Regions from separate parts of the Homo sapiens genome. Here all the other regions are linked to region 3. The links come from fine-mapping of genetic effects on plasma protein levels. A gene starts in region 3. Each other region holds a variant in brackets. All regions are shown on one strand. Distances are from middle to middle.

Region 1 (8,156 bases), 100 kb after region 3:
TTCCTGTAGGAAAACGACATTCCATAAAAGAACTTGAAGAAATAGAGAAGGCCAGGCTGCATGCCAGCTCGCCCTACTTCACTTTCACTTCACACTGTGTGATTCCAAAAGAGTGGCATAAAGCCTCTGCAAGAGCCAGGAGTAAAACTTACAAATACAGGTACAGATGAGCAGAACAAACAAATATTTGTTTAACTTGCAACTTACTTTATTTCCTACTGAAGCTCTTGTAACTAGTCACACTTTTGTCTTTTAGTAGTTTATAGTTTTATTATTATTATCATCACCTTTGTATTATGAAATATATGTAGAGGACAGAATAAAACATAAACAGCTTACCGAGTCCCTGAGTCAGTCCTGTGGAATCACCAGCCATTTCAAGAAAGGGAGCCTGCCCCCTCCCGAGACAGTCTTCTCCCTGCCCCAGAGCTCCCTTCACTTTATAAGTGTTCACCTCCTTGCTCTCCCTGTGGTGTTATCAACTAACTTTGTATCCTTAAACAATATAGTTTATCTTGCGTATTTTTGAATTTCATATAAACAGAACCTGAAAGCATTTATTCTTTTATGACTGACTCTTTAAAAAACATCTTTATTAAGATATAGTTTACAGGCCGGGCACGGTGGCTCACACCTGTAATCCCAGCACTTTGGGAGGCCGAGGCAGGTGGACCACCTGAGGTCAGGAGTTTGAGACTAGCCTGGCCAACATGGTGAAACTCCATCTCTACTAAAAATACAAAAATTAGCTGGGCATCATGGCAGATGCCTATAATCCCAGCTACTCGGGAGACTGAGGCAGGAGAATCGCTTGAACTCGGGAAGCAGAAGTTGCAGTGAGTCGAGATCATGCCACTGCACTCCAGCCTGGGCAACAGAGTGAGACACTGTCAAAAAAAAAAAAAAAAAGATACAGCTTACATACCATAAAATTCATCTGTTGAGGGTTTGTACATGTACAGTTCATTGTGTGACTGCTTTTGCTCACCATTATGTTTTTCAGATTCCTTTCTGTTGTTGCATATAGCTCCAGTGTATTAACTTCTGTTTTCTGATTATATTCCATTATATTTGACTATGCCATCATTTAAGCAATCCACTGTTGTGGACATTTGGGTTGTTTCCATATTTTGGCTATTATGAACAATCCAGTTTGGTATTTTCGTTTCCACAATCCACATTTGTTATTTATTTATTTATTTATTTTTGAGTCTGAGTCTCGCTCTGTCGTCCAGGCTGGAATGCAGTGGTGCAATCTCTTAATTTTGATATAGTCAAATATTTATAACTAGTGCTTTTTATACATTATTTTAAGATGTCTTTTCCAAAAGCTGTATGGCCTTTTTTTTTTTTTTTGAGATGGAGTCTCATTCTATCGTCAGGCTGGAGTACAGTGGCACAATCTTGGCTCACTGCAACCTCTGCCTCCCGGGTTCAAGTGATTCTCCTGCCTCAGCCTCCTGAGTAGCTGGGACTACAGGTGTGCGCCACCACACCCAGCTGATTTTTGTATCTTTAGTAGAGATGGCGTTTCACCATGTTGGCCAGGATGGTCTTGATCTCTTGACCTCAGGTGATCCACCTGCCTTGGCCTCCCAAAGTGCTGGGATTACAGGTGTGAGCCACCGTGCCTGGCCTGCTTTTATAGTTTTGCTTTTCAAATTTAGGCTTATAATACAGTTAGAATTGCTTTTTGTATGTATTTTATGTGGGGCCCAATTGAATTTTTTCCCTTTAATGATACCCATTTTCCTCAGTACCATTTATTGAAAATATCATTTCCCTGCTGTTCTGCAGTGTAGACTTTTATACAAATTCACTGCTGTTATGTATACTTAATTTCCAGGTTCTCTATCCTAGCCTATTTGTTTACTATAGCTTTTTAATGAGTTTTGATACCTGATAGAACAAATACACCAATATATTTTATAATTAGCTCAAGTTTCATGTAGACATACACACATACAAACAAATAAAAAAGTAATGGCAAAAACCACAATTACTTTTACACCAACCTAATACTTGGGATTTTGATTGGGATTGCATTGAATCTGTAGATCAATTTGGGGAGAATTGACATCTTTACAATTTTGAGTCCTCTAATCCATGAACATGGTATATATCTCTCCATTAGTGTGGGTCTTATTTTATGTAAAGGAGTGGTTCTTAATCAAATTGATTAAGAAGCTGGCAATGTTTGGAGACATTTCTGGTTGTCAGGGGCATGGGGTTCTACAGGCATCTACTGGACATAGGGCAGGGATGCAGCCAAATATCCTACAACAAAGAATTACTCAGCCCCAAATGTCAGTAAGTACTATGGATAAGAAACTGTCTAAAGGTCTTGTAGATCTTTGTTTAGATTTATTCTTACTTATTCCTATTTTATTATTATATATAATTTCATTTTCTAGGTAATTGTAATGTATAGAAATAAAAACGATTTCATATGTTGAATTTGTATTTGGCAACCTTGCTAAACTTTATTATGAATTCTGACATTTCATCTATAGAGTCTTTTGGATTTTCTATGTACACAATATTCTTTTTATTTTTTTGAGATGGAGTCTCGCTCTGTCACCCAGGCTGGAGTGCAGTGGCATAATCTTGGCTCACTACAACCTCCGCCTCAACCTCCTGAGTAGCTGGGATTACAGGTGTGCACCACCACACCCGGCTAATTTTTGTATTTTTAGTAGAGATGAGGTTTCACCATGTTGGCCAGGCTGGTCTCGAACTCCTGACCTCAGGTGATCCACCTGCCTCGGCCTCCCAAAGTACTGGGATTACAGGTGTGAGCCACTCTGCCCAGCCCACAATATTATCTTCTAATAAAGAGAATTTTATTTCTTGTTTTCCATTCCTTATACCTTTTATTTCTTTTCCTTACCTTACAGTACCAGTTAAGATCTCTGGCACAAAGTTGAAGTGGTGAAAATTGGCTTCATTGTATTCTTCTTAAACTCAAAGGGAAAGCTTTTGGTGTTTTTTGTGTTTTACATTATTTTTAGATTTCCATTAGTAAGTTAAGGAAGTTCATTTTCTTAGTTTGCTATCAGTTTTTTTTAGATAATAGATTTTGACATATATTAATTTTTATGCATTTATTGATATTTAATTTTTTCTCCTTTGTTAATGTGGACATTTTTATTTTATTTTATTTTATTTTTTGAGACATAGTCTTGCTCTGTTACCCAGGCTGGAGTGCAATGGCATGATCTTGGCTCACTGCACCCTCTGCCTCTCAAGTTCAAGTGATTCTCCTGCCTCAGCCTCCTGAGTAGCTGGGATTATAGGCGCCCACCACCACACCTGGCTAATTTTTATATTTTTAGTAGAGAAGGGGTTTCACGTTGGTCAGGCTGGTCTCAAACTCCTGACCTCAAGTGATCCGCTCACCTTGGCTTCCCAGAGTACTGG[G/A]GGATTTACAGATGTGAGCCTCTGTGCCCCGCCTGTGGAAAATTACACTGACTCATTTTTAAAATATTTTATTACAAACATTTTCAAATGCACTGAATGTAGAGAGTGCAACACATTCCTATGTACCTATCACCCAGGTTCAGCAGCCATCAACATTTTGCCTTTCTCTCTCTCTCTCACTTTACCCCACTTTCCCTTTTGTGCTCACAGTTTTGTGGGAAAATTCTAGGTCTCATGTCATGTCATTTATACTCTACCATGTACCTCACAACAAATAAACAACAGAAATATTGTTTACAGTTTTCATAAATGTGCATCTGCTCATGAAAAATCTGTTTGCTTTAAGACATCTTTATTTCCCTCCTTTTTTCAACTTAACTTTATTTTTCGTAACAAATTTTATGTTCACAGCAGACGTGAGTGGAAAGTACCTAGAGAGTTCTCGTACACCTCCTGTCCCCCAACAAACACAACCTCCTCCACTGTTGACATCCTGCACCACAGTGGTACAAACTACATTGACATTATCACCCAAAGTTCATAGTTTACATTAGGGTTCACTCTTGATGTTGTACATTCTATGCGTTTTGACAAATGTACAATGACATGTATCCATCATTCTGTTCCAGTGTCACACAGAATAGTTTCACTGTCCTAAAAATTGTCTCTGCCCATTCATCTCTCTTCCCCACTAACCCCTAGCAACCAGTGATTTTTTTTTTAGCTGTATCCATTGTTTTGCCTTTTACAGAATGTCATATGGTTGGAATCATACAACATTTAGCCTTTTCGGACTTCACCTTCATTCTTAAAGGATGTTTTCAGGATTAAGAATGTTAGGTTGGCAGTTATTTTCTTTCAACATATATCTTGTTGTCTTTTACTCTTTCAATTGAGAAGTCACTTGCTAGTCTTACTGTTGTTCCTTTGAAGGTAATCTGTCTTTTCCCCTGGATGCTTTTATGATTTTCTCATTGTCTTTGATTTTTTGTAGTTTTATGTGATGTTTCTAGATGTGGATTTCTTTTTATTTATCCTACTTGGAATTCATGGGTCTTCTTGAATCTGTAGGTTGTCTTTAGTTAGTTCTAGGAAGTTTTCAGTTATTTTCTCTTTGTTCCCTCTGCCATATTCTCCTCTCCTCTCTTTTGGGTACTCCAGTTAAACATATTTTAGATTTTCTCACTGATCCCCTGTCTCTGATCATTTTTGTATATTTTCTATCCTTTTTGTCTTTCCATGTTTGGTTCCAGATATTTTATTATCTCTTCTGTTGTGTCTGTTTGTTGTTAAACCCATCCTTTGAATTATTATTTTCAGTTATAGATCTAGAATTTCTATTTGATTTTTTTAATTTTTATTTTTAGAGCTGGCATACATGTGCAGATTGTGCAGGTTTGTTACACAGGTAAATGTTTGCCTAGGTGATCAACCCATCATCTAAGTATTAAGCCCAGCATGCATTAGCTATTTTTCCTAATGCTCTCCCTTCCCCCTCCCCACCCCTCCTTGATTCTTTTTCAAATAGGTTTTGGGAAATGCTGTCTGTACTCGGGGCCTGGAGAGTTTCTGTCCTCCATTGAGAAACCAAGCACATTGCTTGACTTGCCTCTTAGCGGGAGGGTGATGTTGAGAACAAGGTTAAATACCCACCTGTCAGGACATCAACCAGACCCAAAGACAAAAATCCACCAAAGATGCTAGAAGCACAGAGAAATCAGTCTCTACCTTGGTACTTAATATTGGTGACCTGGTACTTGAAATGCTCCCACAGAGGAAGGTAAGAGTTGGAGATTGTCAACTCATTCCTGAAGGCTCTCGCCTCTCTGGAATTCTTTTTAAAGCTGTCCAGTGATTTTAAAATTCTTAATTTTGGTAGTAAATTTTCTGCTTTTTCTTCTCTATTTATTTCAGCAGGACTTTTAGCCTGTGCAGACTTCTATATTCTACACAAACAGGAGGTCTGTTATACACTCTCAATATTTTGTTTTCATTCCCCATCCTGAGTTTTGTTGGAATAAACAGTGCTACTTTGTTTATGCTTACCCTAGTGATTTGGAAGTTTTATGTATTATTTCTGGTTTTATGGTTCCTTTATCATTTTAACAAACATTTTTATTTAAACACCAGTAATTACATAGCCCCCCCACCCCCACAACAAGACAAAGGCTTCATGTTGCTTTGTTGGCGTCATCTCCCCTCTGGCTCCTCCGCTGGTATTCTTCCTTCAGGCTGGTCTCCTCCAATCCATTTTTCGCCCAGCAGCCAGAGTGGTCTTTTTAAAGTGATCAGCACTCCTCCACTGGAAACCCTTCAGTGCCATTCCCCTTATGACAAAGCCCAGGCCCTCAACATGGCACATGAGGCACCATCTGGGCCCTACCACCCTTTCCGGCCTCATCACAGAAGTCCCATCAACTTAAATAAAAGGAAGATTGATTAACCATGAAAACCTCTGGGTCAAGTCAGCACATTCTTAACTCCCTGACCTGCCAGGCTGTTGCCTGCCTTTGCTCCCTCTGTCTGTCACTGGCCATTCCAGTGCAGGCAAGAGGGCAGTTATCACAGGGACACAGAACTCTCCAGCCCCTTACTGGCCCTTTCCTCCATCAGCAAGCCCCTTGAGGGCAGGGACTGCATCTTACTATCTTGGTGGTCCCAGCACTTAGCTGGAGCATAGTAGATCATGAATAAGTGGTTGTTGAATGAATTAATGGAGGAAGAAAAGAGAAGGCTTATTTCCCTCAATAGGGCTAGGCTTCCTGGGGCAGAAATGGTGGCAGCCCTGGTGAAATTCCTCCGGGAGGACACACCCAGAGGATGCCTCGTGTGGCTATTTGATGAAGTAAGAAAAGGACTTGAGAGCACGTGGCGAGGTGAGGCAGAGACAGTTTGATGACAAAAGCCAGAATCCTTCTCAAAGGAAAGGCGGGAGGGGGCTCGATATGTTAGAGAGCATTGGTATGTCATGGAAGCCAAGCCAGGAAGGGAGCCAGGCTGCTCGGGGGACGGACTGGGAGGCTGGAGCCAGGCGCTCGGGGGACTGACTGGGAGGCTGGTCCCTGCCTCTTTGGGGCTATGTGGCACTCACCATTACTTCTCTTCGTGAACCTGCTCTGTTTCTCTTTCTTTGCACATGGGCTTTCTGTGCTTTCCTGTGAGTGCTGGCAAGTGGAGGCGCCGTTCTGCCTGACTTTCTGGTTTGAGCACTCAGAGGCTGCCTGGAAGCCCCTTTGTCCCAACTACAGCCATAGGGATTGAAGCTCTGGACCTGGTGCCTCAGCCATGGCTGGGGAAGGGTCCCCAAGTCACCACCTCCCTAGGAATTGGGCCAGCAGAGGTACGGACAGGGCAGGCAGATTGAGGGACAGCCACCAGTGATGGCTGGTCAGTCGTTCCTTCTCAAAAGTGACGATTGAGTTCATTGCATTAATCTTCGGAAACTATTTGATGGTACAATTCCATCTGTGCTGAATCGAGACAATTTTTTCTGCTTTTCTTCACAGTCCTGAAAAGCTCATCTATGCAGACAAGAAACAGAAAAGAAAAGAGAAAAAGACGGCCGACCTAAGTCAGGCTGCGTTTGAAAGGCAGTTCCTTTCCTCAAAGCTCAGCCAGAAGAACAAAGTGGGTGAAAGAAAGGGTCTGGTGAGCAGAGGCCTGGGGCGGGGCTGGCATGCAGGGCTTTGCAGCACCCACGAGCAGCACATACTGGTTCCAGAATGAGCCACCGCCACAGCCCTCCCTGTCAGACAGGCACCCAAGGGCGGAGGAGGCATGGCCCAAGAAGAAGGGTGTGAAGAGGAGGAGGGAGAAATGGCGGTGGCCTCAGGCTCAGCACTGCAGCTCTGACAGGGCCCCTCGGGCGGGGAAGCCTTGCATGAAGAAACTCAGACAAGTGGTAAATGTGGGACCTGGACCCCACTTTCCGGAGACATCCTGTCCTTCCGAGGTGAGGGCCAACCTGGCCACAGGGGCTTTTCCCCCTGAGATTTCTTCAGCGCCTTCGCCCGGGCCTTTGCCCTTCTGCCACTTTCCTACCATTTTCCACTTACTCCATCCAAACTGCACCAAAGATGGTGTTCTCCTTAGTCCACACACAACTGGTGGGAAGTTTTTGAAATGAAATTTATACCAAAAAATTAGGGCAAGATGAGATTTTTTGATATTTAAAAGGTATTTTTATATGTAGGAATTTTCTGAGTATGGATTTCTTATCCAGAGCTCATGGTTCATTTGACACAGTTTTCAGCTCCTGGTCTATTTCCCCTTCCATTCTCTCCGCCACGCCCTGTGCCCTGAGGCCTGAGGCGCAGGACCCTCCCAGGGAAGGCCTAGGGGGCTTGGTGGGCCACCGCTCAGCTCAGGACCTGACAGCGTCACTCCCACCCTCACCACCACACACACAGGATGGGGGACTGCTGCTGCTTTCCAGCCTGTGAGCCTGGATAGGTATTTTGTGACCCAGCTCCTGCTCAGTCCCATCGCTGTCCCCGGTCTCTCCAGGGAGTAAGGGATTCTCCGTCTGTGGTAAGTTACCTGTGACTCTTCAGCAGTTTCCTCTGAGCATAATTATATCTGAGAGCACAGGGAGCTCCTCATTCCATGTATTTTTCAAATATTCAAGATGTACAACGTGATGATTTGCTATAGGTATTCATTGTGAAATGTTTGCCACAGTCAAGCTTGTTGACATACCCACCAGCTCACATTTACTGTTTTCGTGTGTGTGGTGA
Region 2 (8,180 bases), 36 kb after region 3:
CCATGCAAAAAAAAAAAAAAAAAAGGATGAATAATGCATATGGCTGGGCAAAGGGAACAGGGTGAGAGAGGGCTCAGGAGAATAAAAGAAACTGCTGCCCTCCTCTCCTATATGTATTCTATGACCTAGACTTAAAACTGATTACGGCCAAGTGTGGTGGCTCATATCTGTAATCCCAGCACTTTGGGAGGCCGAGGTGGGTTGATCATGAGGTCAGGAGATCGAGACCATCCTGGCTAACATGGTGAAAATTCATCTCTACTAAAAATACAAAAAATTAGCCAGGCATGGTGGCATGCTCCTGTAGTCCCAGCTACTTGGGAGGCTGAGGCAGGAGAATTGCTTGAACCCGGGAGGCAGAGGTTGCAATGAGCTGACATCCCACCACAGCACTCCAGCCTGAGCGACAGAGCGAAATTCTGTCTCCAAAACAAAACAAAACCTGATTACAGCACTTGATGTACTCACGTTTTAAAGATGGGGTCTCACTATGTTGCCCACACTGGGCTCAAACTCCTGGGCTCAGTTGATCCTCCTGCCTCAGCCTCTTGAGTAGCTAGGGCTACAGGTGCACTCCACCATGCCAGGTAGCACTTCATTTTTTTTTATACAGAGTCTTGCAGAATAAGTCACAACGTATGCTTAAGATTCTTTTTTCAACCTGAGGACCTGGCCGGGTGCAGTGGCTCACGCCTATAATCCCAGCACTTTGGGAGGCTGAGGCGGGCAGATCACTTGAAGTCAGGAGTTCGAGACCAGCCTGGCTAACATGGTGAAACCCCGTCTCTACTAAAAATACAAACATTAGCCTGTGTGGTGGCAGGCACCTGTAGTCCCAGCTACTTGGGAGGCTGAGGCAGGAGAATCTCTTGAACCTGGGAGGCTGAATCTTGAATCTCTTGAACCTGGAAGTTGCAGGGAGCCAATATCACACCACTGCACTTTAGCCTGGCTGATAGAATGAAACTGTGTCTCAAAAAAAAAAAAGAAAAAGAAAAACAGAAACACAAAATAAACAAAAAACAACTAAGGACCTAGAATTAAAGATGCTAACATTTTACCAATGTTACAAATGTGACTCTCTAATATATTTATTTTAAAAACAATCCTGCATTTTTTTTTTTTTTTTTTTGAGACAGAGTCTCGCTCTGTCATCCAGGCTGGAGTGCAGTGGCACGATCTCGGCTCACCGCAACCTCTGCCTCTCCGTTCAAGTGATTCTCCTGTTTCAGCCTCCCAAGTAGCTGGGATTACAGGTACCTACCACCACACCTGGTCTAATTTATGTATTTTTGGTAGAAATGGGGTTTCACCATGTTTTCCAGGCTGGTCTCAAACTCCTGTCGTCAAATGATCTACCCACCTTGGCCTCCCAAAGTGGTGGGATTACAGGCGTGAGCCACTGCACAAACCTGATTAATTTGTGTGACAGAAGTAGCATAGCATCCTTTTCCTGTCTATTTAAAGGTTTTCTTTAATTAATATTCATGCCCCTAGAATCTTTCATAATACAATTTTTAAATGGTCATAGTTCTTCTTCTTCTTTTTTTTTTTTTCTCGAGACAGAGTCTCGCTGTGACGCCCAGGCTGGAGTGCAATGGCGCTATTTTGGCTCACTGCAACCTCCACCTCCTGGGTTCAGGTGATTCTCCTGCCTCAGCCTCCTGAGCAGCAGGGATTACAGGTACCCACCACCACACCCAGCTAATTTTTGTATTTTTAGTAAAGACAGGATTTTGCCATGTTGGCCAGGCTGGTCCTGAACTCCTGACCTCAAGTGATACACCTGCCTCGGCCTCCCAAAGTGCTGAGATTACAGGTGTGAGCCACCCCATCTGGCCTGTAATTCTTTACTTCCCAAATTTTCTACAATGATCACGTATAATTTTTTAGATAGAGAAAAATATTTTTTTAAAAAGGAGTAAAGGAAACAAAAGTCAGTCATAAGACAACTGGCTCCTGAGTGGATATCAGCCTTGTCCATCCTTCCTGATCATACGACCATTTCCAAGATAGCTGTCCCTTCCCAGAGCAGTGGGATATTAATGGCGTGATGCCAGCAGTGCACTTCTAACCAGGGCACATTCTTTGGAGTCTGTGGAGTTTTTTGTGGCCCTAAGCAAGAATACTAACCTTTAGTGCCAGCCACATGACCTACATTACAGTAGTCAGGCAATTTATCTGGTCTCCTCTGGGGAATTAGCCCTGAGCCCTAGCTGACAGGGTAAGAGCCTGGCTTCCTGACAGCCAAATTGCCCATCTTTCTAATCTCATATTCTGGTTATTTTAATTAGATAATTAACCTGGCTCTCTATGTCTCTGTTCTGCTCTCTGCTCCTGCCCTACAATTCTGAAATGGAGCCTCCTTCAAATCCTGACATCTGTTCAGGAAGGGTCCAATAATGCAAAATGCAATAAAATGAGGCATATCTGTACATAGGTATATAGTTTCTGTGATAAACTTAATTTCTCAATTGGCCCTTTAAGATTCAGCTCTCTGGCGCCTTCCCTGACTCTGCTAGGCCGAAGTAATTCATTGATTTATTCATCAAACATGTACTAATTGCCTACCCAACATCAGACACTGTGTTAGGTAATGGAGAAAAAGAAGGATTAAGACAAGACAAATGCCTTCCAGGGATTCACAATCTAGATAAACAAAGAACTGTAATGGGGATAATCATAAAGGTATGCATAAAATACATACCACAATGGATAGAAGCCTGAGATCTGACTTGGTTCTTTAATGATGATTAGGAATTTGCAGAATAGATGTGAGGGACAGGAAGGAAACAGAAAATATTTTAGGCAGATAGAACAGCATGTACAGAGGCATGGAAGGCAGAAGCTATATCTTAACCAGCTCTGCTTCCCTAATTTATCTAGGATAGTGCAGGGCACATGGTAAGTACCTCTGAATGTTTGTTGAATGAATGAATGAATGAATGAGTGGCTGCTTTTGTTACTAGAGGCTTCTGTTTCAAAGGAGTGTTTATGCAACTCCAGTAAACTTTTTAAAATTTAAATTTAGATTTTGAAAAATCTAAACACAAACACAATTTACCATTTATTAAGCTCAACTCTCACCGATATAATACCCAAGCTAGTTCTCTATGAGATCTTTATTCAAAAATGTATAGACACGGAGGGGGAATGCAGTATATACCAACAAAGTGGCTGCCTGACTCACAGTAATTCCTTTTCCTGTAAAATGTCTCTTTATATAGGGTAGACCCCCAGCAGCCACATCTCTGCCTTTTTACCCTGCTGTCTCCCCCCTCCCCTATCCTGCCCCACCTACATAGCTGACTGATACAGGGGTAAACCATATGACCTGAAACTTGCCAAATCAGGGTCCTAAGAGAAATTAAGGGGTATTATGGGAGGCTTGGCCATGATATCAGCCAGGAAAGGAAACAGTTTGCTATGAGACAGAACAAAGCTGACTCATTTAGAAGTCAAGACAGAATCCTAGCAGTGTTCCAGTCCCTGAATCTACCTTCCCCATGGCTCAGCTGCACCCTGTCCTTCCAGTGGCTATGTAAATAACCTCAGCATCCTTCCAATAAATTCCTCCTTTCTGCCCTAGCTGGTTTGAGTTGGATCTCTGTTACTCGTAGTCGGAAGACCCAACTAACATAGGGAATGAAGACAGGAACTAGGAGGCCAACTTACCCAGGCTCTCTGTGGCTTCCACACAGATGCTAGGATACATGCCCTCAGTGTAAGTTGCTACCAGAAGATACAGATGGGTCTTCAC[G/A]ACAACCACACCAGTGTTCTCCTGTATAAAGAATATAAGAGAATATTCTGCTCTTGGTTCTAATCACAGGACCAGTGGTCATGCTCCAGCTACGTTTTTCACCATTTCCTGATTTCCATATGTTTGGAATATATATGGAATATACATATTCCGTATATATTTTCCATATGTTTATATATCTGTTTTTGGACTGTCCACTCTTTTCCACCAATTTAGTTGCCTTTCCTCAAAAAGTTTCAGACTGTTATAATAATGGTAGATGGATTTTGAAAAAGTTCTGCAATTGATTATCATATACCCCATCCCAATTAGAACAACTGATGTAGGCCGGGTGCAGTGGCTCCCGCCTGTAATCCCAGCACTTTGGGAGGCCAAGGCAGAAAGATCACCTGAGGTTGGAAGTTTGAGACCAGCCTGGCCAACATGGTGAAACCCCATCTCTACTAAAAATACAAAAATTAGCCAGGCGTGGTGGCAGGCGCCTGTAACCCCAGCTACTCGGTAAGCTGAGGCAGGAGAATCTCTTGAACCCAGGAGGTGGAGGTTGCAGTGAGCCGAGATCGTGCCATTGCACTCCAGCCTGGGCGACAAAAGTGAAACTCGTCTCAAAAAAAAAAACAACAACAAAACAAAACAAAACAAAACAAAACTGATGTAATGGAAAGGTCGTACATTTTGGAATTGGACAGCTCTGGGCTTGAATTCTAGTGCCTCCTTTTCTGCTGCATGAGTAAGGGTTATTTAACCTTGTTAAGCCTCAGTGTCCTCATCTGTAAAATGAGATTATTTAGTTTATAATGTGGATGAAGCAGCATGCCTAACCCATAATATAGGGCATCCAATGAATGATTTTCATCTCTTTCATTCCTTATAAGCAACAGAGAGCTGATTTTTTTTAAAATTTTTTTTTTGAGATGGAATTTCGCTCTTGTTGCCCAAGCCGGAGTGCAATGGCACGATCTCGGCTCACTGCAACCTCTGCCTTCTGGATTCAAGAAATTCTCCTGCCTCAGCCTCCCAAGTAGCTGGGATTACAAGGGCGCACCACACCTGGCTAATTTTCTTGTATTTTTAGTAGAAACAGGGTTTCACCATGTTAGCTAGGCTGGTCTTGAACTCCTGACCTCAGCCTCCCAAAGTGCTGGGATTACAGGTGTGAGCCACTGTGCCTGGCCACTGAGAAATGTTTTAAGCACAGAAATGATTATCTCTTTTTTTTTTTTTTTTAAAGGAGGATGTAGAGTATGAAGGTGGGACTGTATTGGAAAGAGTTCAGGCAAGGCTCAGTTAATAGATTCTGGAATGAACATTTCTCAAAACCAGGCTCTTGATAGGACTTTCTTTCACATATGTCTTCCTGGCACTAGACTGCTATCTCAAGACAATGGCTCAAGACATTAATGGATTTAATCTGTTTTACAGAAAGGATCAGGCAGAGCAAGGAAATTTGGAGGCAAATTCTTTTCTTTTACTCAGCTCTCTTCAAATCTTGAGCACTCACATTTTTGGCATAAAGAGAATATTCATCTGCCCGGACACATCTGTAATCTTTTCCCTTGAAATACAGTCCTTCTCTTCGGGCTTGCAAAGGGTTCTTGGCAAATCCATTCACCAGTGTTCGGACATCACTGGGCGTTACCTGGAGAGGTTACATGGTTAGAGCAGGAGTCAGCCAACTATGGCTGGTGGCCAGCCAAATTTAGCCCACTACCTGTTTTTTATGGCCTGCAAGCTAAGAATGGTTTTCATGTTTTTAAATGGTTGGGGAAAAAAAATCAAAAGAATAACACTTCGTGACACTTACAAATTATATGAAATTCAAACTTCAGTATCCATAAATATAAAATTTTATTGGAACACAGTCACATTCATTCTTTTATGTATGGCTGTTTTTCCTCTACAATTGCAGAGTTGAGTGGTTGTGACAGAGACTCTACGGCCCTGTGCTATAGTTTGAATCTCATGTTGAAATCTGATTCCCAGCGTTTTCGGTGGGGCCTAATGGGAGGTATTTGGATCATGAATAGACTGATGCCCTCCCTGCGAGCTGGGGGAAGCTGTGAGTTTTCACTGTATTTGTTCCAGGAGAGCTGGCTCTTAGAAAGAGCCTGGCACCTCTCCACTTGCTCTCTCTTGCTTCCTCTCCCCCACTGTGATCTCTGCACATGCTGGCTCCCCTTCACCTCTGCCATGAGTGGAAGCAGCCTGAGGCTTTCACAGATGACCAGTCTTCCAGGCAGTAGAACTGTGAGCCAAATAAACCTCTTTTCTTTATAAATTACCCAGCTTCAGGTATTCCTTTATATCAACAGTAAAAAGACTAAGCCTAGAAACCTAAAATATTTATGTAGCTCTTTACAGAAAAAGTTCATTTAAAAGTCATGTCTGGGCTGGGCACGGTGGCTCATGCCTGTAATCCCAGCACTTTGGGAGGCCGAGGCAGGTGGATCACCTGAGGTTAGGAGTTTGAGACTAGCCTGACCAACATGGTAAAACACCATCTCTACTAAAAATACAAAAATTAGCCGGGCCTGGTAGCGCACTCCTGTAATCCCAGCTACTCGGGAGGCTAAGGCTCAAGAATCGCTTGAGAGGCGGAGGTTGCAGTGAGCTGAGATCATGCCATTGCATCCCAGGCTAAGCAACAAGAGTGAAATTCCGTCTCAAAAAAAAAAAAAAGTCATGTCTGCTTCATTTTTTGGAAGAATAGAAATAATAAGTAAATCAAGTCTTAGGTCCAAACTTGTTTTTTCTTACATTGAAACCTGGTGATGCTACACACAAGCTCCGCTCCTGGATTTTGATGAGGGCTGCACTGTCCACATGCTTGGTTCCCAAGAGGGTGTCTAACAATAAGCTCTGCAAATGGCTCATGTTCCCTCAACTCTGAAAGGGAAAGTGCAGTTGAAGCCATTGACTCTGGCTAGCTTTTAAAAGGCATGTGAATACAAATGTCCTTAAGACACTGCAGACAGTTCTAAGATCAGCAAGTGTACTTTGAAAAGGTACAGGGTGAAAACGGTGGTCCATCATTCAGGGCCCACCAGTACCCAAAGAGGAAAACAGAATCATAGAAAAATCACAGCTCACACAGAATAGGTTATGAAGCTGAGTTTGGAAAATCACAGCCTGGTGATTTTCTGGCTATGTCAATGGTTTACATCAGGATTATCTGCGATTTAAAAACAAACATTACACACTGAGAAAAACTCTGTAAAATAAAAAATAAAAACAAAAAACAAAACCCAGCCAGGATGGAGAGCTACCCTGCTAAGTTAAACACGACTAAAAGAGATTATGCGTGGCCATAAACCCACACATTCCCTTCCCGGTGACCTGCATCAGCGCCAGCTATGAACGCTGATCAACATCCCAATGGACTAAAAACACCTTGAAGGCACTTAAACCCACATTTCCCGCACAAGTCCCCAAGCCTTGGACCCCCCTCATCAGGACCTCCGGCACAGGCGCCCGTTTCCCGCCACTGCCTTCCAGTGGTTTGGTCCCCGAGCAGGACCCAAGGCGGGGCAGGGGGTGGTGAGCGGTGAATTCCCTGGCACCGAGGACTCGAGGGAGCGGACGCCACCCCGCTCTGTGGTGCCCGCAAGGACCCGGCGACCAAGGACCCGACCGTCAACGGACGCGGTTGCGGGTGGGTGGCGGCGGCAGGATTGGCCGGGCCACGCGCCGGTCACCGAGAAGCAGCGACTCCAGCCCCTTCCGCAAACCAAGACCCGCCACCTAGAGCCGCCGCCCAATCCCCTTTGGGCCTGAAGCCGTCCTCCGCCGCCCCGGCACCGCCCGCGCGGACTCGCTGTGGAACCCGCGGCGCAGGGGGCGGAGTGCTCGCGCGGCGCTGCGTCCGGGAGACGGTGGGCGCCAACATTCGCGCGTTCCGCAGACGCGGGCGGGCTCCCTTCCAGCCGCAGTCGGACGGCTCCGGGGTCGTCGGGCCGGGCCCGAGTGTGTAGCAGGACGGCCGCGGGCCTGCTGGCCTTGGGAGGGCAGAGAGGTGCCTGTCGCGGCCGGCGACCTCCCCGCCAGGCCGGGCGGTCCCCGCGCACGACGCGCCTGCGCGGGAGGCCCCCGGCCCGGGGCTGGCGTGGAGGCCGCAGGCGCCCGGCCTAGTGGGTGGGAGGAAGGGCCGGGAGTGGGCGCGATGAGCGAGAGCGGGTGCGGACGCCTACGACATCCCCGTCGCACCCGTGCCTCGGGGAGGACTTCGAGCCGCTCAGAGCTCGAAGACTCGCGCAGTATGACCGAAAGCCCCTCCCTGCCTTCTCTAAGCAGCTCAGCCTGTGTTTCTGTGGCCAGAAAGTTGCAGTTCTTCCCACTCGAGGCCACCAAAGTCAGAAAAGTGTTGCAAATGGGACTCCGAGAGGCCAGGCTGAAGCTGCCACACTGGCTGGAATGGGCTGCC
Region 3 (8,153 bases):
AGTACAGTCCCACTGACACCCAGGCACGATTGAGAACAGAATACAGGAGGCCCAACCTAGGCTAGTTGTTCACATAGAAGTTAGGAAGTGTCCGCACTAGGTTATTGGAATCATAGGCTTTCTAGCTTTGGTTTCATCTCTCCTTTTCTACTCACATAAAAAATGGAGGCCAGGCATGGTGGCTCATGCCTGTAATCCCAGTACTTTGGGAGGCTGAGGCAGGTGGATCACCTGAGGTCAGGAGTTCGAGACCAGCCTGGCCAACATAGTGAAAGCCCGTCTCTACTAAAAATACAAAAATTAGCTGGGCGTGGTGGTGCGCCTGTGATCTCAGCTACTCAGGAGGCTAAGGCTGGAGAATCACTTGAACCTGGGAGGCGGAGGTTGCAGCGAGCCGAGATCAAGCCACTGCACGCCATCCTCAGTGACAGAGTGAGACTCCATCTCAAAAAAAAAAAAGAAAGAGAAACGGAAAGGGATGAGCCAAAAATAGACACGTCTGGCTTTGGAATACAGAGGTGTGCACATCTACTTACTCATTTAGGGTGCTACCACCCAACCCTACCATGGCTGGCTCCAAACTGGTCTCTGCCTCCAAGCCTCCTGTTAACTAAGTGTGGAATGGCTGGTTGGGAAGAAAAGGTGCTGGATAATTCCAGACCAAGTCTGCATGGTCTAAAGTGTGGATGAATCTTATCTCTTGCAAGAATGCACATGGAAACCATCTTAGATTTAAATATGACTGCCTGTCTCCAGTGGTCAAATACCATAGTACTAGAATTTGGCCAGGGCAGCTGTTGTGCACTTAGCAGAGGTAAGACTGATACACAGCACTGGCAACTTTGAGACTGGTGGGGCTTTTATTTAATCATCTCTTAAATTCCTGCTGAACTGTAGAAGCAGTTGTTTACCTTTGGTGAATTTCAGCGTTGCTTCAGAGAAATCCTCTTTTTTGTAATTGAATCCAGCAGCTGCTCCAAGCTTTTCTGCCATTTGAAGCTTCTTCTGGGAGCCAGCTGTGACCAGAGGAATAGCTCCAGCCATCCGGGTGAGTTGGATAGCAGCTGTGCCCACACCACTCAGTCCTGCATGGATTAGCACATAGTCTCCAGCCTGAACATTTCCTGTGACAGAAAGTACAGGGTTCTCTTTACTTTGCAACTGCTACACATTCCCCACACAGGCATATTCTATCAAGATCACCTGGCCGTTGCACCAAATGCCAAATCAATCTTTTGCTTTTCCTTTTTTATTTGGTGGGGTGGGGGTGGGCTGGTGGGGGTGGGACGCTGTGACTCAAATACAAACCATCTTGTTCTTTGGAGAAAGAAAAAGAGCATATTGACGACCTTTTCTGTCTTATTGCCTCTGGCTAAAGTGGAAAACAGCCTTTTGAAACAGGGCTATAAGCAGCCACATCCATAATCTCTATTTTACCTATAACACCAAAATGCACATCTCTGACCTACACCTGAATAAGTAAGAACAACTACCATTCCCATGGTCACCACCGAAAGCCAGTCCTTCTAGAGTCTGAAACTGGCCTCCAGCTGGTCTTCCTGATCCAGGCAACACACAGCCACCAGGCTCCTCTTCCTAAGATGGCACTTGCATTATGTTACTTCCTCCTCAAAATGTAAAGTGCTTCTCCATTGGCTTTTGCATTGAGTCCAGACAGCTTGATATTCAAGGACACCATGATCTGGCTCCAGCCTCATTTTTCACAAATCACAATAGTCATCCTTCACTACTGAGTGCAGTGGCTGGTCTCACCTTGATACTGTTTTTTTTTTTTTTTTGAGACGGAGTCTCACTCTGTCACCCAGGCTGGAGTGCAGTGGCGCAATCTTGGCTCACTGCAAGCTCTGCCCCACCCCCCCTGCGTTCATGCCATTCTCTTGCCTCAGCTTCCTGAGTAGCTGGGACTACAGGTGCCCACCACCACGCCCAGCTAATTTTTTGTATTTTTAGTAGAGATGAAGTTTCACCGTGTTAGCCAGGATGGTCTCGATCTCCTGACCTCATGATCCACCCACCTCAGCCGCCCAAAGTGCTGGGATTACAGGCGTGAGCCACCACGCCCAGCCTACTCTTTCTTTTTCTTTGAGACAGAGTCTCACTCTACTGCCCAGGCTGGAGTGCAGTGGCATGATCATGGCTCACTGCAGCCTTGACCTTCCTGGGCTCAGGTGATCCTCCCAACTCAGCCTCCTGAGTAACTGAGACAACAGGCATGCACCATCATGCCTGGTTAATTTTTGTATTTTTTGTAGAAACAGGGTTTCGCCATGTTGCCCAGGCTGATCTTGAACTCCTGGGCTCGTGATCTGTCTTCCAAAGTGCTACGATTATAGGTGTGAGCCACCTTGCCTGGCTGATACTCTTTCTTAGGCCACCTTGGCATGCCTTATGTCCTTCACAAGTCTACCCACCCTTCAAAGCCTTCCAAAAAGCCTTCTGACTACCCTTGTCCACACCATCTTTACTCATCTCCAGCTTCTATCATAGACAGGGCTATCCTTCTAAACTCTATGGTCATCTGATCTTATGCATATGTTGCCTTCTCAGTTACACTGCACTGTCTAAAGGCAAGGACCAAGTCTTCTTAGATTCCCTTATGTGAGTTCTTGACTGGCCTCTGTGGGATTGAGGAGGAATAAATGAGTCAATTGGTCCCTTCTGTTGCACTGGGACCCCAGAGAGAAGCTCAGTATGATTCTAAGAAGCTGGGACTTCTGCTGGGCGTCCGGTGTTAACATGTACATAGGCCTCCTATCTAGTGTTATCCAGACCCTCTATCTGCTAACCATGATTCTCAGCCTCAACATTAAACCCTTCTAACATGGTTTGAGGACCTGACAATACAGGTGATACAGGAAGGCCTGGGAGTGCCCTGGGGGATTGCTGGGATTCAAGTTGGCTGATTTATGAAGGTGTTGAGCCACATTGTGTGGAGTGAGCATGGAGGCCTCCTCACCCACAAGATGTAACAGCTGGAAGGCGGTGAGCCAGGCCTCTGGGATGGCTGCAGCCTGGGTCAGGGTCAATCCCTCTGGGATAGGCATGAGGAGCCCTTCGGGGACAGTGACGTACTGAGCCTGGCCCCCACCGGGGAGCAGAGCCATGGCTGTGTCCCCGATCTTCCAGTGTCCCTGGCAGCCAGGCCCCAGCTCTGCCACATGTCCAGATGCCTCAAGTCCCAAAATGTTGCTGGCTCCTGGAGGTGGGTCATACTGGCCTTGTCTCTGCAGAGAAAGAAGTGCACTAAGTGGTGAGCATGATCAGAAATCTGTATGTCACTACCCCTGGCCCCCCTTCCAAGATCCCCTCTTTTTTTTTTCAAAAATAAATTTCAGAATGAAGTCAGGTTTTTGTAAGTAAGGAGAAGAAAAAGGAGAGGCCATTAGTTTTATGCAAATAAACTGGAGGTCACATGATCAGTGGATGTTATAACTGGTAGAGTCCTTAGCTATTTACCTCATCTGAACCCCTTGCTTTACAGATGGAGAAACTGAGTCCCAGACGGGAAATAATAGTAGTGGGATTAGGAACCTTGACGATGGTTCCCATGCATCAAGCGCTAGGCTCTGTGCTCACTCACCCCAGTCCTCAGAAGCTGTAGAGCAGAGGGACTTAACCAGGAGTGTGTGGCAGAACCACCTGAGGAGTATTTCAAAGTACACGTGCCTGGGCCCCCATCACGTTTCTTTTGTGCCCCGGGGGATTCTGATGCACATTTCTGAATGACCCCAACCAATGCAGCTGGCCCAGGTCAGTAAATCAGCATCAGACAGAAGAAAATTCTTAAGAGTACTGCCCGCTGTCAGCTCCGGGACTCTCAGAGTGGAAAGAGTTAAGAGGTCTTTGGAGCCACAAAGACCTCAGCTTGAATCCCAGCTCTTCTGATTGCTAGTGTCACGGCCTTGGGCGTACTGCTTAACCTCACTGAACTTCAGTTTCCTTATCTGTAGAATTAAGATGGCGAACAGGGTAGCCTGGGGAGTAAGTGTGCCCACACCCCACAACAATGTTAGTTCCGCCCTCATCTGGAGGCCTGAGTGGCTATGGATTAGCTCGGGGTGGATTCTGCTTTACAAGTACTCCCCCTTGTTTTGCATGAACAAAGAGGGCGCCCTGGGTTTAGGTCTGGGAAGCCCCAGCGCAGCTGCCTGCTGGGTGTGGAGCGGTGCACGCCTTCACGTCTGGTCAATGTCCACTGAGTGCTGTTGAGAGGGAGGCTCTGGAGTCCCGCCCGCCCCGGCGCGGCTGAGCCCTGGGTACCTGCATTAAGTCCGCCCGGTTCAGGGCGCTGGCCGCCACCTTCAGGAGGACTTCACCCTCCCCCGGGCTCGGCTTGGCCACCTCCTTCACGTAGAGGTTTTCCGGTCCTCCCGGCTTGTCAAAGTGCACGGCTAACATATTGTCTGAGGACACAGGGCAGGGCAGGGCAGGACAGGACAGGGCAGGGCAGGGCAGGACAGGACAGGGCAGGGCAGGACAGGACAGGGCAGGGGCCGCTGTATCCTCGCGGAGCAGCCCAGCCTCAGGCTGGCACCGCAGCGCCCCCTGCCGGCCAGCGCCTCGCTGCCCTGGTCTGCCGCGGACCCGGCCTCCGCCCCGAGCTCCTGCCTGGGAAGTCCTCGGCCGCCTCCAGACCGATCCCACCCGGAACACAGATGGGAACGGCGGGAAGTGGGATGGCGGTACAGGGCTGGATGCGGCAGAGCAGGACAACGCCGAAGAGGATCAGGCAAATCACACTCCCTCTGAGTTGGAAGCCCCCAGCCCGACCCGGGTCCCCGGCGCCCGTATGAGTTACTTACTCCTGGCCCGGCTCCCCTCCCATGCACCAGGCGGCGCCGAGTGGTTCTGGCTCCTGCGGGTCCCGGTGACAAAGCCCGAGCCCCAGAGCCCCAGGACTGCCTCTGCCTCCACCGGAATGGACGGCTGGACCTGGGGTAGCCGGAGGGGTGGGGCTAAGCAGAACCACCCTCCCCCTCTTTCCTTTCCTCCTTCCCCCTTTAAAACGCAAAGTTAGAAGCAAGCAAATCAGATTTTCTTGTCCTTTTAGCCTCTGGAAAAGAGTCTTTCTCTCAGCTTGACAGAAAGTGCGATTCTAGCTCTCACTTCAAGGAGAGGAAACTTCCTTCTCTCTAGGGAACGAGACCCAACCTCTTGGCGGGCGGATTGGTCCATTTTCCAGGCATGGCCAGGCTTTTGGCACATTTATGTAACAGGCTGGCATCCCGCCCATCTTGAGCATGGGTGGGCAAGCTGGGTGCTGCTAAGAGAAGAGAAAGGAGCCGTTGGGAGTGGGGGTGGGGAAGGAAGGCAAAACGCAGTCCTGGGATCCTTATCACTCGCCTCCTCCTGACAGTCCTGGGGGAGAGGTTCAGCCCCAGGAGAAGGATGCTGGCGATTGGGTAAAAGCTGTATCCGTAAGCTACATGAAGGTTTCTCAATCTCGGCGCTATTGACATTTTGGACTAGCTAGTTCGTTATTGTAGGAGATCGTCCTGTGCATCGTAGGATGTTTAGCAGCATCCCTGGCCTCCCCCCACTACATATCCGTAGCACTCCTTGTAAATTCCTGTTTTAGTAAGAACCTCCCATCCTTGACATCTGATCACCCTCAATATCTCATCCTCCACCATCCCCCAAGTGATATCCGACCACCCTGGCCTGTCTTCAGTGAGAATCCTGTTAGGTCAGTTTAGATAGAATCCCCCTTACCCCTGATGCCTCTTACCAATTTTCCATCCACTGACCCCCTACACTGCTCCTTGGCTATACATTCCCACTTGTCCGTGATGCATTCAGAGTTGATCCCAACCTGTCTCCTCCACTGCAAGAACTCATTGCAGTGGTCCCTAAACCTGTAGCGATGGTGCTAAATAAAGTCTTCCTTAATGTGCTTTAACAAGTATCATTGAATAATTATTTCTTTAACACAACAGAGCAAAAGCCTATAGAGATGGAAATAATAAAATGATGGGACTTAAGGAAAAATTCAGGAGACCCTGCTATGAGAATAACAGGAATTTTAGGCCGGGCGCGGTGGCTCACGCCTGTAATCCCAGAACTTTGGGAGGCCAAGGCGGGCGGATCACGAGGTCAGGAGATCGAGACCATCCTGGCTAACACGGTGAAACCCCGTCTCTACTAAAAATACAAAAAATTAGCCGGGCGTGGTGGCGGGCGCCTGTAGTCCCAGCTATTCGGGAGGCTGAGGCAGGAGAATGGCGTGAACCCGGGAGGGGGAGCTTGCAGTGAGCCGAGATCGCACCACTGCACTCCAGCCTGGACGACAGAGTGAGACTCCGTCTCAAAAAAAAAAAAAAAAAAGGAATTTTAGAAGGAGGAAGAGGAATGGATGAAGAAGATTCAATAGTTAACCAAATAAAAGAATACAGTTTTCCTAAATTCTACCAGATTATACGGATTGAAAACATTCACTAAAGGATGGATTCATAAGAACAAAAATGCATGCCTATATTTTATAAAATTTCAGGTTCTAACAAGTGTGGAAAGAATAAGTTACTCACAATTGGTTAAAAAAAATGGCTTCCTTCTCTCCCTCCCTCCCTCCTTCCTTCCTTCCCTCCTTCCCCACCCCCTCTTTCTCTCTCTCTCTTTTTTGTAGTGTAGGGGTCTCATTATGTTGCCCAGGCTGGTCTCAAACTCCTGGACTCAAGCAATCCTCCTGCCTCAGCCTCCCAAAGTGCTAGGATTACAAGTATGAGCCACTGTGCCCAGCAAGTTTCTATCTGCAATCTGGAAGCTAGAAGAGAGTAGACTAGCGTCTATTGACTAGAAGAAAAGCACTGTAACTCAATATACCCCATTAAGATATAATTCACTTGTTAGGGCAAAAAACATGTCTGAGGATGTATAAGGATTCAGAGACACATCATCCGGATACACATCTGTCCAAAATCGAGGAAAGGTTTGAACCAAATAAATATCCTAGAACAGAGACAGATGGAAAGGAAATAGTTGTAAATAACAAACTTTGCAAAAATCGACACTAAAACTGATTGGATTAAGAAAATGGAATGGATTAAGATAGATGAGGAATGTGTAATGTAAGTGCTAAATAAGAACTTTTAAGATGCAAGGAGTAACTTTAAAAAAAATCTAATAATACCAACCACTAAGTATACTAAAGTATCCCAGTAAAACTAGTAGTTGAAAGTGCCTAAGATTTTATCTTAGTGAGCCCTTGGTCGATGTAATCTTGCAGTGTGTAATAAGAAATATATATTTTTGGTCTTTGTCCTGGGTTCCTACAATAGCACTCCTAAAACCTTTGTTATTTGCTGAATAAACATCTCTTTCTTTCTTTTGTTTTTAACTAGATATACGGTCTTGCTACGTTGCCCAGGCTGATCATGAACTCCTGGACTCAAGCAATTCTCCCACCTCAGCCTGTAAAGTACTGGAATTATAGGCATGAGCCACTCTGCCTGGCCAATAAGTATCTTTTATTATATTTTGTTCTCCTGCAGAGCTCCTAAAACCCTTGGAATTTCGTATGTGATAGAAGTGACTTTTTATATTAATAACAAACCCTTATAAGCACACTCGAGTTTATGCTAATATGACTTAGGGTGGGGGCCCTAGATAGCTTCAGGATGAGCTGGTCACCAGAAAGACCCTGGGAAGGGGAAGCAGGGACTGGAGATTACACGCTATAAGAATTCTTTTTTGTTGTTGTTGTTGAAACTGAGTCTCACTCTGTTGCCCAGGCTGGAGTGCAGTGGCCTGACCTCAGTTCACTGCAACCTCCACCTCCTAGGTTCAAGCGATTCTCCTGCCTCAGCCTCCCGAGTAGCTGGGACTACAGGTGTGAGCCACCACACCAGGGTAATTTTTTTTTTTTTTTTTTTTTTGAGACAGAGTCTCACTCTGTCACCCAGGCGATCTCGGCTCCCTGCAATCCTCTCAAGTAGCTGGGACTATAGATGCACGCTGCCACGCCCAGCTAATTTTTTGTATTTTAGTAGAGACAGGGTTTCACCAGCCCAGGGTTTTGCAACAGTCCAGGCTGGTCGCAAACTCCTGAGCTTAGGCAATCCACCTGCCTCGGCCTTCCAAAGTGCTGGGATTACAGGCGTGAGCCACTGGGTCCGGCCCATTTTTGTGGTTTTAGT

Which allele goes with the higher level. Positions count from the first base shown, and alleles are read on the strand shown. Strength reflects both the effect of a copy and how common the allele is. Not every link is listed here.
As copies of G replace A in region 1, the plasma level of the protein whose gene starts at base 4,927 in region 3 goes down (moderate association).

What was found. A credible set is the group of variants that fine-mapping cannot tell apart. PIP is the posterior inclusion probability: the model's chance that the variant is causal. Protein levels are from antibody-based Olink assays in UK Biobank. Linkage for the fine-mapping came from a reference panel and not from the study's own genotypes, which makes the PIPs less certain.
Region 1: its variant is the best candidate, but not a certain one, in a credible set for the plasma level of the TP53I3 protein (UK Biobank, PIP 0.66).
Region 2: its variant is the best candidate, but not a certain one, in a credible set for the plasma level of the TP53I3 protein (UK Biobank, PIP 0.59).

What each region holds. Positions count from the first base shown.
Region 1 is chr2:24,183,486-24,191,641 of GRCh38, forward strand. It overlaps FAM228A (family with sequence similarity 228 member A), which reads left to right. Exons shown (of 6, transcript NM_001040710.3): 5 at 10-160; 6 at 6,927-8,156. The coding sequence ends at 7,146. Among named protein-coding and RNA genes, the nearest start is that of FAM228A, 13 kb to the left of the region's middle. The variant G/A (reference allele first, on the strand shown) is at 3,421.
Region 2 is chr2:24,115,902-24,124,081 of GRCh38, forward strand. PFN4 (profilin family member 4) reads right to left here and starts at 7,433. Exons shown (of 5, transcript NM_199346.3): 1 at 7,217-7,433; 2 at 6,518-6,646; 3 at 5,262-5,399; 4 at 3,676-3,781. The coding sequence starts at 6,634. FAM228B (family with sequence similarity 228 member B) reads left to right here and starts at 7,568. Exons shown (of 11, transcript NM_001145710.2): 1 at 7,568-7,632. RefSeq lists a silencer at 7,500-7,999 and an enhancer at 8,070-8,180. The variant G/A (reference allele first, on the strand shown) is at 3,761.
Region 3 is chr2:24,079,908-24,088,060 of GRCh38, forward strand. TP53I3 (tumor protein p53 inducible protein 3) reads right to left here and starts at 4,927. Exons shown (of 5, transcript NM_004881.5): 1 at 4,282-4,927; 2 at 2,978-3,245; 3 at 912-1,124. The coding sequence starts at 4,419. It also overlaps a transcript of FAM228B not described here. RefSeq lists enhancers at 2,639-3,569, 4,165-4,264, 4,415-4,464, 5,212-5,712 and a silencer at 4,475-4,654.